Linked DNA regions of Homo sapiens. The protein of the gene in region 1 interacts with the protein of each later gene in a pairwise test. Each region holds a gene or a part of one and is shown in the gene's direction. Other genes may lie near its edges. The genes, in order: AATK, PTPN20 and PPP3CA.

The links.
Region 2: the proteins of AATK (region 1) and PTPN20 interact in a two-hybrid assay, tested with the Homo sapiens proteins (one study listed by BioGRID).
Region 3: the proteins of AATK (region 1) and PPP3CA interact in a two-hybrid assay, tested with the Homo sapiens proteins (one study listed by BioGRID and IntAct).

What each region holds. Positions count from the first base shown.
Region 1 is NC_000017.11:81,156,197-81,159,850, reverse strand, and holds part of AATK (serine/threonine-protein kinase LMTK1), read left to right. Parts: intron 1-3,654. UniProt on the Homo sapiens protein: May be involved in neuronal differentiation.
Region 2 is NC_000010.11:46,963,303-46,966,956, forward strand, and holds part of PTPN20 (tyrosine-protein phosphatase non-receptor type 20), read left to right. Parts: intron 1-1,683; coding exon 1,684-1,835; intron 1,836-3,654. UniProt on the Homo sapiens protein: Tyrosine-protein phosphatase targeted to sites of actin polymerization in response of varied extracellular stimuli. Has tyrosine phosphatase activity towards various tyrosyl phosphorylated substrates.
Region 3 is NC_000004.12:101,060,996-101,064,649, reverse strand, and holds part of PPP3CA (protein phosphatase 3 catalytic subunit alpha), read left to right. Parts: intron 1-1,292; coding exon 1,293-1,418; intron 1,419-3,488; coding exon 3,489-3,563; intron 3,564-3,654. UniProt on the Homo sapiens protein: Calcium-dependent, calmodulin-stimulated protein phosphatase which plays an essential role in the transduction of intracellular Ca(2+)-mediated signals. Many of the substrates contain a PxIxIT motif and/or a LxVP motif.

The sequences.
Region 1 (3,654 bases):
CTGGGGGAGCCAGGCTGGGGGGCAGGGGAGCTGGTCCGGGACCAGGGCTCTGCCGAGTCACCTCTGTGCCAAGGCCACGGTTTGAGGCTGTGGCTTGAGGCCGTTGTGGGATGGAGCTGGGGATGCCGTCCTCGGTGTGAGGATCCTCCGACGAGGCCCTGGTGCTCGGTGGGGCCCCTCTGGCTTCCCTTCTGCTCTGCTTCTGGGAATTCTTAGTGACTCTGAACAAGGGGCCTTGGGTTCCCTTGGTACTTGGTCCTGCGGATTCTGCAGCCGGTGGGGCTTGCTTAGGGTTTGGGCTCCGCTGTGAGGCCCACGTGGAATTTCCTCGAACCCCCTGCGAAAAAGGCGTGTGGCTTCCTAGTGACCACGGCACACACAAGTGCGCTCTGACCTCCGGGGTGCGGGTCCGGGGCTTCCCCGCATTGGATTTACCCGCGCGGCAGCACGCCCAGCCCCCGAGAGTCCCCGCCACTGCCCCCAGGACTGCTACCTGGCCGGTCACTCGCAGGCCGCCGGCGCCCTCCCAGCTGCCCCATGTTGGGGATCTCGCTCGCTCTCTGTGAATGATGCTCAGTTGTGGGCTGTCCCGTGGGCTGCTATCGTGGACGCTGGAGTGAGGGCCCCTTTACTGAGAGGTAACTCACATACCAAGGACCCACCTGTGTCAAATGAGCAGCTGGGGCTTTCCTGCATTCCCAAGAGTGCAGCCATGGCACGGCTAGCTGTGGAGCATCCCTGCCCCTGACAGAAGCCCCATGCCCGAGGGCATCACTCCCCATCCCCTGCCCCCAGCCCTGGCAGCCACCGATCTGTCTCGGTCTCTGGGCCCCTGGCCTGGACGTCTGTCTCATAAGCAGGGTCCTGTGGCCTTGTCCTCTTTGGGCCCTGAGGTTTTCGCTGTGTGTATAGCGGCCCCAGGGATCAGGGGTGCTGGTGTGTGACTGTGGGGCACTGTCCAGGGAGCTTCCAGGAGGTGGTGCCATTTTGCCCCCATCCCCATGGACGAACGCCTCCATGGCTTCCCCTCCCGCCAGTGCTGGCTGCTGTTTTTATAACGCCCGGGCTCGTGAGCATGTGGGGGCTGCCCATGGTGGTCTTGTCTGCCTTTCTGTGGCGAAAGATGTCAGGAGCCTTTCCAGGTCCTGCCCAGCTCTTCTGAGCCCCTCAAGCGAGTGCCCATTGGAGGTATTTTTTGGTGGTTTGTACCTGGTGTCGGGCAGCCCTGGCCAGCTGGCCTGTGGGAGCCAGGCTCGGGGCAGTGGGCAGGTCCTGGACACAAGGCCTCAGGTCTGTGCGCAGTGAGCAGGTGGCCTGCTGCTTCACTTCCCGTGACCCTGTGCAGGGCTGAGCACCAGCAGCTTCCACCCTGAAATGGGCCGAGGTGAGAGCACTTGCGGCAGGAGCCGGCACACGCCCCGCTTTCCTTCCCAGGGAGCTGGGTGCAGACACTGACCAGCACACCGCCAGGCTCAGGCACCTTCTCTCCCTGGGAAGCTGCCTGGAATCTCTGTGGCCCAGAGGCAGGTGTCCCTGAAAGCAGCTCCTGGCCCCAGGGATGAATGACGGGGAGGACGGACCCTGCTCGGACCCTGGCTCTGGAGGCTGGGCCCCGCCCTGCTCTCTGCCGCGGGGTCTGGCGAGATGCTTGGCTGCTGCTGGAGCCTGAACTAGCGCGTCAGACTGTTTTATTTTTCCTTCTGTGACGGGCGGCCCTGCAAGTCTTGTCTAGAAATACCCGTGGCCGGCATGCATCCGCGACGCCCGGCCGCCCTGGCCATGGACCTGCCCGTTTCCTCCTTGGCAAGCCTGAGCCCAGCAGCCCCCTGCTGCTGCCCAGCCAGCACTGAGGGAGGGACTCAGTCCGTGCAGGTCTGTAGGGGGCCAGCTGGATGCCCGGCTGTGTCAGGGCCGGGGTCCTGAGACGCACAGGAGGGTAGGCCCCCACGAAGAGCGGGACCGAGGGCCAAGGTGTTGGGGGACAGTGTGCGTCGAGCAGAGACAGGCCAGGAGCGAAGAGATGGGGGCTGTGGGACCTTAGCTGGAGCTGCCTGCCCCTTGGAGGCTTCTCCACTGTCAGGGATCAGCCTCCTGGGGAACCGGGGGCATTCCAGGTGCCCTTCCCACCCTTGGACCAGCCTTGGGGTAGGCCCTGGGGCATCTGATGCTGATGCAGGCTGGGCCTGGGCTGTGTGTTGTGTCAACAGAGGGGACATTCCTTGTGAGTGTCCAGCTGGTGGAACTCACTTCCGTCCCTGGGCTGGCCTGGGCTGGGCACCCATGTTTGATTGCAGGGTTGGCTGTCGAGGGGCAGGAGAGGCGGACTTAGAGATGCTGGGGTGGTAACCCCCGGGAACTGTGCGGGGGTTCCCTGCAGCAGAGAGTAGGGCTGGTCCTAGCACTGGGGGAGGGCCGGATGCCCACCTTGGGGCTGCCAGCGTGTGCGGCAGGCATGTGCGTGGAGGGGTACGTGTGCGTCTATGAGCAAGTGCAGCCCCAGGTTGGAGGCGAGCGTGTGCATGGGCTGGTGCGGTGCCCGCGGTGTCGGATGGACCCGGCCCGGGCCCGTGGACCTTGCCATGTCCTGGGCTTGTCCCGGAAGCTTACATTTTATGTGGCCTCTCCTAAAAATAACCGTGGCTGGCCTGCATCCTCCTTATCCGTGGACATTCGGGCTCCCCTCTCTTGGCGGGGGCGGTGTCTTGTGACTTACAGCCCCTGCCCTGTCCTCACCTGCCACCCAGAATCCCACGCGGCAGATGGTGCCCACATCTGTCTGGTCTCGGGAGTGACTGTGGGGATGGTTCAGGGCTGGGCACGATGCCGCCACCAGGGCCTGTGGGGGCACCGTTGCTGTCCCAGAGGCTCCTCCTGCCCTCTCTCCCCTGTGTCGGGAGGCCTGTGGGGTCTTGCCGTACCCCGCCCAGGGCCCTGCTTCTGAGTTGGGGAGGGGGTCCTCAGTTTCGTGCCTGACTGGCGATCAGGGCCGAGGAGGGGTCTGCTGGACTGGGCTCTCTGTAGCAGGAGCTGATTGAATCCCAAAAGACACAATCCCAAGTGCCATCATCCTGAGTGTGGAAATCCCAAAAGGTCAAAATTCCAAAAACCGAATTCAGGAAAAAAATGATTTAAAAGATTCTTTAGAAGACATTTAGTCTGGGCGCGGTGGCTCACACCTGTAATCCCAGCACTTTGGGAGGCCAAGGCAGGCGGATCACCAGGTCAGGAGTTTGAGACCAGCCTGGCCAACATAGTGAAACCCTGTTTCTACTAAAAATACAAAAAATTAGGCGGGTGTGGTGGCTGGCGCCTGTAGTCCCAGCTCCTCGGGAGGCTGAGGCAGGAGAATGGCATGAACCCGGGAGGCGGAGCTTGCAGTGAGCCGAGAAGCACCACTGCACTCCAGCCTGGGCGACAGAGCAAGACTCTGTCTCAAAAACAAAACAAAACAAAAAACATTTATTTGCATTTGAAAAGGGATTTATTTGAAAAACATAAAAACTCAATAAAAATAAAAACTTCAGAGGCCACTTCACACAATAACACAGGCCATAGTAACATACATTGTAACATAGTAACATACATTGTAACATGGTAACATACATTGTAACATAGTAACATACATTGTAACATGGTAACATACATTGTAACATG
Region 2 (3,654 bases), on another chromosome or scaffold:
ACAGCTGAAACCTCACCTTTATACTTTGATTGGAATTCTTGGACCAGGCTACAAGAAAAAGAGACCAAATTCAGAATGATGTTAATGATAAAGATATATATATATTTTCTACCATAATGGAAGCCCAGAGATAGGAAGGATTCCAGGTTCAATATGATCAGTTGCTAATGTCATCAAGAACATAGTTTCTTTATGTTTTTCACATTTGCTATACTCTTTCCTTTTATGGCCATAAGAGGGCAGACTATGATAATTAGGTCCTTATACTTCTTTGTTTATGTGTGTACAGAGGGATGAGGGTAGAAGAGAGGTTTGCTTCTCTTTTTTACAAGACCAGCCTATTTCTATGGTTGGCGCAAATCTCCTACCTATTTCTGAATTATTCACTGGAAGGATCTTACTATGGAATGATCACAAATGGCTTTAACTAACCAGAGGGGTAGAATCGGTGTTGGGGAGTCAACACCAGTGTTTGTTACAGTCATTCTACATTTTCATTTTTTTCTCTCTTCATTCTCCCAGCTTTTGTACTAGCAAAGGTGGAACACAATGGGAAGATCTAAGGGTTTTTCTGTTGGGCATCAAAGATGATCAAAATGGCTTCTACGCTTGTGGGAATTTTATCTCCCCTTCCAGCCTGCTTAGACCTCCTCTCATACTAAGGTTAGGGATATTTGTGAGAAATTTTAGGATTTCTGTGCCTGTCTATCCCAACCAAGAGCCCTCACTTCCAACCCTACAAAGAGCCTCTGGATATAGTGGAGTACCAAGATAAGATGTGCTTCCCAGGAATGTGCAGATTCTTAGAAATTTCCACCTCTTTCTTTTGCTATATTGTTTTGTATATATCTTTTTGCTGGTATTAACTTGATTATTGTTCACATTATTTGGCTTTGCAAAGAGATTATGAGAACTTGTTTTACTTGAACATCTTACCTCAAAATTTTGAAGCTTTTAAAATACTCTTTTACTGTTGACTTCTAGATTTATTGCATTTTGGCCAGTGGACATAATGTATAAAATTTCAGATGTTTGGAACCTTGACTGTCAACATTACCTAAAAGATCATAATTAAAAATAAAAAGATTGTATGTGTGCTATTAAATATTAATAGAATGTTCTCCCCAATTATTGGTTGCAAGTGTCCATATGTATCCATTATTCCATCTTATTAATTATATTGCATAGATCCTCTCCATCCTTGGTGTGTGTGCACGTGTGTGCGTTCATGTTCAATCTGTTTCAGAGTAATGAAACAGGACGTGAACTCTCCACATCACCACATCTCAGACTCTAGGAACTTCCAAACACTTGGTCCCAGGGAGGGCAAAAGTTCTCTTTCCTAATCCAAGCCTTGTACGTTCTTGCCTTGGCATAATTTTCAATCCATATACCCAATTCACATTATAAAACTGAACACTTCTCAATCCACAGCATTCGTTATGTTTATGGCACTGAACAGTTTTCTCCAAGGGCAGTGGATTTTGTATAATTTCAAGGTGTAAATAGCCATGATTTTTCCAAAGGAAGCCTCTTTCAAAGTAGTAGACTCTTCACCCGTGGAAAAATAAACTTCTGTTTACCCTTAAATGGCTGTGTCTTTAAGAGAAACAGAAACAAAAATAAAATCTCCCTTCACATATATACCAGTAACTTACATATGTGAATTTTTCTCTTCCTTAGATACGCGCAAAATTGTTTCTGAAGGAGAACTAGATCAGTTGGCTCAGATTCGGCCATTAATATTCAATTTTCATGAGCAGACAGCCATCAAGGATTGTTTGAAAATCCTTGAGGAAAAAACAGCAGCGTATGATATCATGCAGGAATTTATGGTAAATATTTTCTTAACGAAAGTCTATATGTGATTTCTTTTTTTATATCATTGCCAGAGGGTTTCTTTTCTTTTCTTTCTTTATTTGGTTTTAGTACATTGTTTTTACTTTTAAATGTTATATATATTTTAAAGTAATAGATGTACGTGGTTAAAAAAAAAGCCAAATAGCATAAAAGGATATAAAATAGAAAGTCTCTCTCTTTCTCTCAAGACTTTCTAGGGCCCCTTTACACTATTCATTTTGTCATTTTGTCATGCAAACTTTTAAAAAAATTTGTTGGAATGCACTTTACATCCTTAAATTTGTTTTCCTCCTAGATACAATTTCCAAGTATATTATCAGCATGTATAGCAGTATCTCATTTTTTTAAGTGTTGCATGGTAATTATATGGATAAGTACCTTAATTTATTTAATATTTAATTTCTGAAATTAGGGTACTTATCCATATAATTAACTACCATGGAACATTTGGACATTTAGGTTGTTCTAGTCTTTGCTATTATGAACAGCGGTCATCTCTCTTCATATACTGTATGCATATATTTAAATATTTTTTGAACAAATTCCTAGAAAGACAATATTAATATTTTGGGCTATCAATTTTTTGGATCTTTTCTCATCTCTTAAATGACAAATTATTTCTTATTGATTACTTAATTGGTATTTATTTGAGAACAAAAGAATATCTTTCCATATGTTTTTAAGCCTTTTATATTTTCAGTGAACTGCTAGTTTCAATTCTTTGCCCCATTTTCCTTTTTTTTTTTTTCTTATTGGTTACTCTTTTTTTTTTTGAGATGAGTCTTGCTCTTGTCCCCCAGGCTGGAGTGCAGTGGTGCGATCTCGGCTCACTGCAACCTCCGCCTCCCAGGTTCAAGCGATTCTCCTGCCTCAGCCTCCCGAGTAGCTGGGATTACAGGTGCCTGCCACCATACCTGGCTAATTTTTGTATTTTTAGTAGAGACAGGGTTTCACCATGTTGGCCAGGGCTGCTCTCAAACTCCTGACCTAAGGTGATCAGCCCACCTTGGCCTCCCAAAGTGCTGGGATTACAGGCGTGAGCCACCGCGCCTGGCCGATTACTAACTCTTTAAGGAAAAAATTATGCCTTTGTGTGTCTTACACGTAGTATTTTTTCTGCTGTTGTTTGTGTTACACACAGGTGCACATGCATGTGCACACACATGCCTATTTACCATGAAGAAATAGCTGATTTTTAGTGGTCAAATATGGCAATCTTTGCTTTTGGGGCTTCTGGGTTTGGGGCTTTCTGTGCTCTTTAGGAATGCTTCTTTTACTCTAGGATTGTAATAATTACTTCATGTTTTTTTCTAGTACCTTTATGATTTTTAAGCATTTAAATCTTTGATGCAGCTAGAATTTAATTTGGTATAAGATGTTTGATAGGGACTCAGCATTATATAACTATCCAGTTGTCCCAAGACTCTCCTGGAATTTCTCTTGAGTGAGGTAAAATGCCACTTTTATCATATACTAGAGCCTTACATATATTTTAATTTATTCTTGGACTTTTTCTACTGATTTTCTTATTCCTTTATTGGTATTGTTCTGTTAATTAGCATAGCTTCATATTATCTTTTAACATCTAATGAGACTCATCTGCCATCATTATTCATTCATAAATGAATTTTTTCTCATTCTTCCTACAGAATTTTTTCCAGATTAATTTTAAAATTGATTTTCAGAAAGACTTGATCATTTTATTGTACTACTTAAAACCTTCACAGGCTCCTTGTTCCCCATGGCAGCGGTTGCTAGGTTGGCTACACAAGAGTTACCCAAGAGCTTTGAAAA
Region 3 (3,654 bases), on another chromosome or scaffold:
TTGCTTGAAAAAGATTGTAAGGCAGATACCAAGATGTGTCTCCAGCTCCTGAGCATCCATTCTGAGTAAAAACAAAAAAGTAAAGAAATGATTACTTTTTCTGTATTTTCAACCCCATAACATAAGCAAGAAAAGATCATATGATATCATATAAAATCTGTTGGTTACTGTCTTCTAATGTAATACAAATTATGCCCTGAATAGATAATAAAAATGAAATCTTGCCAAAGCCTAAGAAGGTATGCTTGAGTATCATATTTAATATTTAAAAGGCTGTCATTCAGAAGCAGAATGACATTAAATATTAAATATGAAATGCATAGCAAAACCATGATCAGTGACTGGTAAAGGCAGGTTTAAATGCAACCTGAGAATTTCCTGCAACTTCAAATTGTCTATCCATAGAATAGGTGACCTCATTAAAACAGGTGACTTTTCCTTTATTGAAAGTACTCACAGAGACATGAAGCATGCAGATTTGTCTTCCTGAGTCATGGATGGACATCTTTTTCAGAAATCAAGGATAGAGTCAGATAGAAGCACATTATTTTATGTGGGATTCAATCCAAACATTTTATTTTATTAAGTCAAGAAAGCAGTCTACTATAGGGTAACTATAGTTAACGATAATAGATTATAATTTCAAATAGCTGGAAGGAGAATATTGAATGTTCCAAATACAACTAAATGATAAATGTTTGATATGGTATTTAATGTATAGCTAATTACCCTGATCTGATTACTGTGCATTATATGTGTCAAAACATCACTATGCACCCCATAATTATGTACAATTATTATATTAATTTAAAAAATAAAGTAAAAATTAAAGCAATCTAACTTAAACTATTTTGTACAACTGTTGGGAGTTCTATTGAAGTTTTACTTTTTAAAAATAAATTCATTCAAATATTTGAGGAGATTATTATGTCAAACTTAGCTGTGCCACTTTTATTAGTGTCATCAGATATCAAATTTTAAGACCAAAGTATTCTTGGCTGAAAGGGGAGCTTGAATCAGTTCCTGACAGACATTGGATTAACTATTTTGTGTAAATATTTTCCAATTTGTTACACAATTACATATTAATTATTCATATATTGTGCAGTTATATATTACCCTGAGTAAGGTTTAAGTCCATAAGTTGTATAAGCATTCTGGGATGCCTAAGGTGTGAGCCTGGATGTTTTGGAACTTCAGTCAAATGGTTGAATTTTCTTGATGAGCTAAAGCCATACATAGAAGCAGAAATATGTTCTGTGTTCCTAACATCCTCTTTTGGTTATTTTTAGCTGCAGTATTGAAGTATGAGAACAATGTTATGAATATCAGGCAATTCAACTGTTCTCCTCATCCATACTGGCTTCCAAATTTCATGGATGTTTTTACTTGGTCCCTTCCATTTGTTGGGGAAAAAGGTATGTTGTGGAATCCTGAGATGTTCTTCTTAAAATAGTTTAGGAAGGAAGGAAAGGAGATTAAACACTCAGAAAGAGAAGAACTTTGGCCCAGCCAATAAAATTCACAAGTTGTACAATGAAAGATGTGATTTGGAAGTGGCAGTGTGTCACTCTGTATCCTATTAACAGGACACAATTGGTGAATGAGGGGGAAGCAAAAAAAAAAACAAAACACAGGAATATTTAGGAAATTTTTACAATCTTATTAGAATAATATAACGCTTTAAAAAATAATGGAAATACAGGTTTACCTGGTTTCAAGTAATGTCTACCCTTTTTCCTTACCCATTTGTACTATAATCCCAAAGGACTATTTAATTTTACAAATTATCTGCCAAATTAAAAGATTAGGATAGCCATGCTCTCCTTACATTTCTGATGTTAATAAATTATTGTACGATAGTGCTTAATGGCTACAATATTTTGAAGAACAACATGTACAACAGCAAAGTAGTTCATCAATAATGTAGGCATTAGCGCATTATAAGGTACAGAACAGGAGACAAATTTACATTTTAGAAAGTTATTTGTTAACTTTCTTCCTACCTTCCTTCTTTCCTCCTTTGTTTTGCTTTCATATGTTGACTTAAACCCCAACAAAAATTTTGGGGAAATGTCTGCACCAATTGTTTTTCATTCAGGAGGCCTAACAGTGATACACGGATTGATTCTCATGTATCTTCTCATACTTTCCATGAGAAGGTGAATGGGCATTGTAAGAAAAATAAATGTTCCTATAAGTATCAGAGTAATGATGTTCTATGAGGAGTATCAGAGAAAAGCTAAATATTTTTCTGAAACCCTAATGGTTGTTTTCCCTTTAAATGCCCTAAAATGATTAAACCAGTCAAGTTATGAGTTGTTGGCAAAGAAGCCTTCCCTTTGAATATCAAAATAATCAAAAGTAAATTTTTAATAATCTCTGATAAATATTCCCAATACTACTCCATATTGCAACTTTCTTGCACTGATCAAATTGGAGTAGTGTCATCTGTTGGCTTCGCTGGAAACAGAAGCAGTGTGGATGCTGACAACTATGGGGCACCTTTTGAACATCCTTTATTTGGGTTGTTTCTATTAATTATTAAAATTTGGGACATTTATTAGAAATTAACATATTAATCTATTGGTACACAAAATCCAGTTTTGATAATTAAACTGAAACTCTGGATCAGTGTTGGCTCTATTGAAGTTTGACTCTCTATCATTCATCTTCAATTCTAGAAGGACATTTTTTTAAATAGCATATTACTTTAAAAAGTAGCTCTCAAAGAAGCAGTAGACAGGCTTCTTTTCACATGCATGGTAGAATCCAATCTAATTTCAAAAAATATTAAATGTAAATAGCATGGTTTATAGTATAAAAATAATGCAGTACTAATTTCCTCTGTACAACACTTTTATGTAATCCTATTGTAATCTATTAAGTAAATTTCTGATTAAACTGCAACTGTTTAATTTTTTAAGCATTTTTGAAAATCAAATTTAATGATATTTCTGTCAATACATTTTTAAAATTAGTATTCTGAAAAATACTTCAAATATATTAGTTTATCAATCAACAGTTTGTATTAAACACAAAACCACATGCCTATAATGGCGTGAAGTTCTCTAGGTGATTAAAAATATAAGAAAAATCATCATTCTTAGTCCCTACTGAACAGAAGTTTGTAATCTGATCTAGATTAAGCCTTATCATTGTGTGACTAATAAAAATTCAAAAAAACTATTTTCTCTTTCATTGATTTGTAGTATATTCACATCCACATATTTGATTTGTCATTGTCTATTGACCTAGAGCTAGTAAATGTTACCATTAGATATCATAAGCATCAGCTAATAGTTTCATAAAGTCTGCATAGAATCACAAAGGCTGTCTTTTATGATCTGGATGTTTACTGAAACTGCTTCTATATACAAACTAAATAAGAAATGTTATTGCTAAGTTTGCTCATTAACAATGCCAGAGTAATAGTTAAGGTTATAACAGAAAACCCTGACTTTTCTTTCTTTGCTTTCTCTCTTTAGTGACTGAGATGCTGGTAAATGTCCTCAACATCTGCTCAGATGATGAACTAGGGTCAGAAGAAGATGGATTTGATGGTAAGAGGCTTGAGCCTTTGTGCTAATGCTATTTGCCAGATAATTACTTAGAGTCTCATTGCTAAATCTAAGAATAAATTTCTAAGATTTG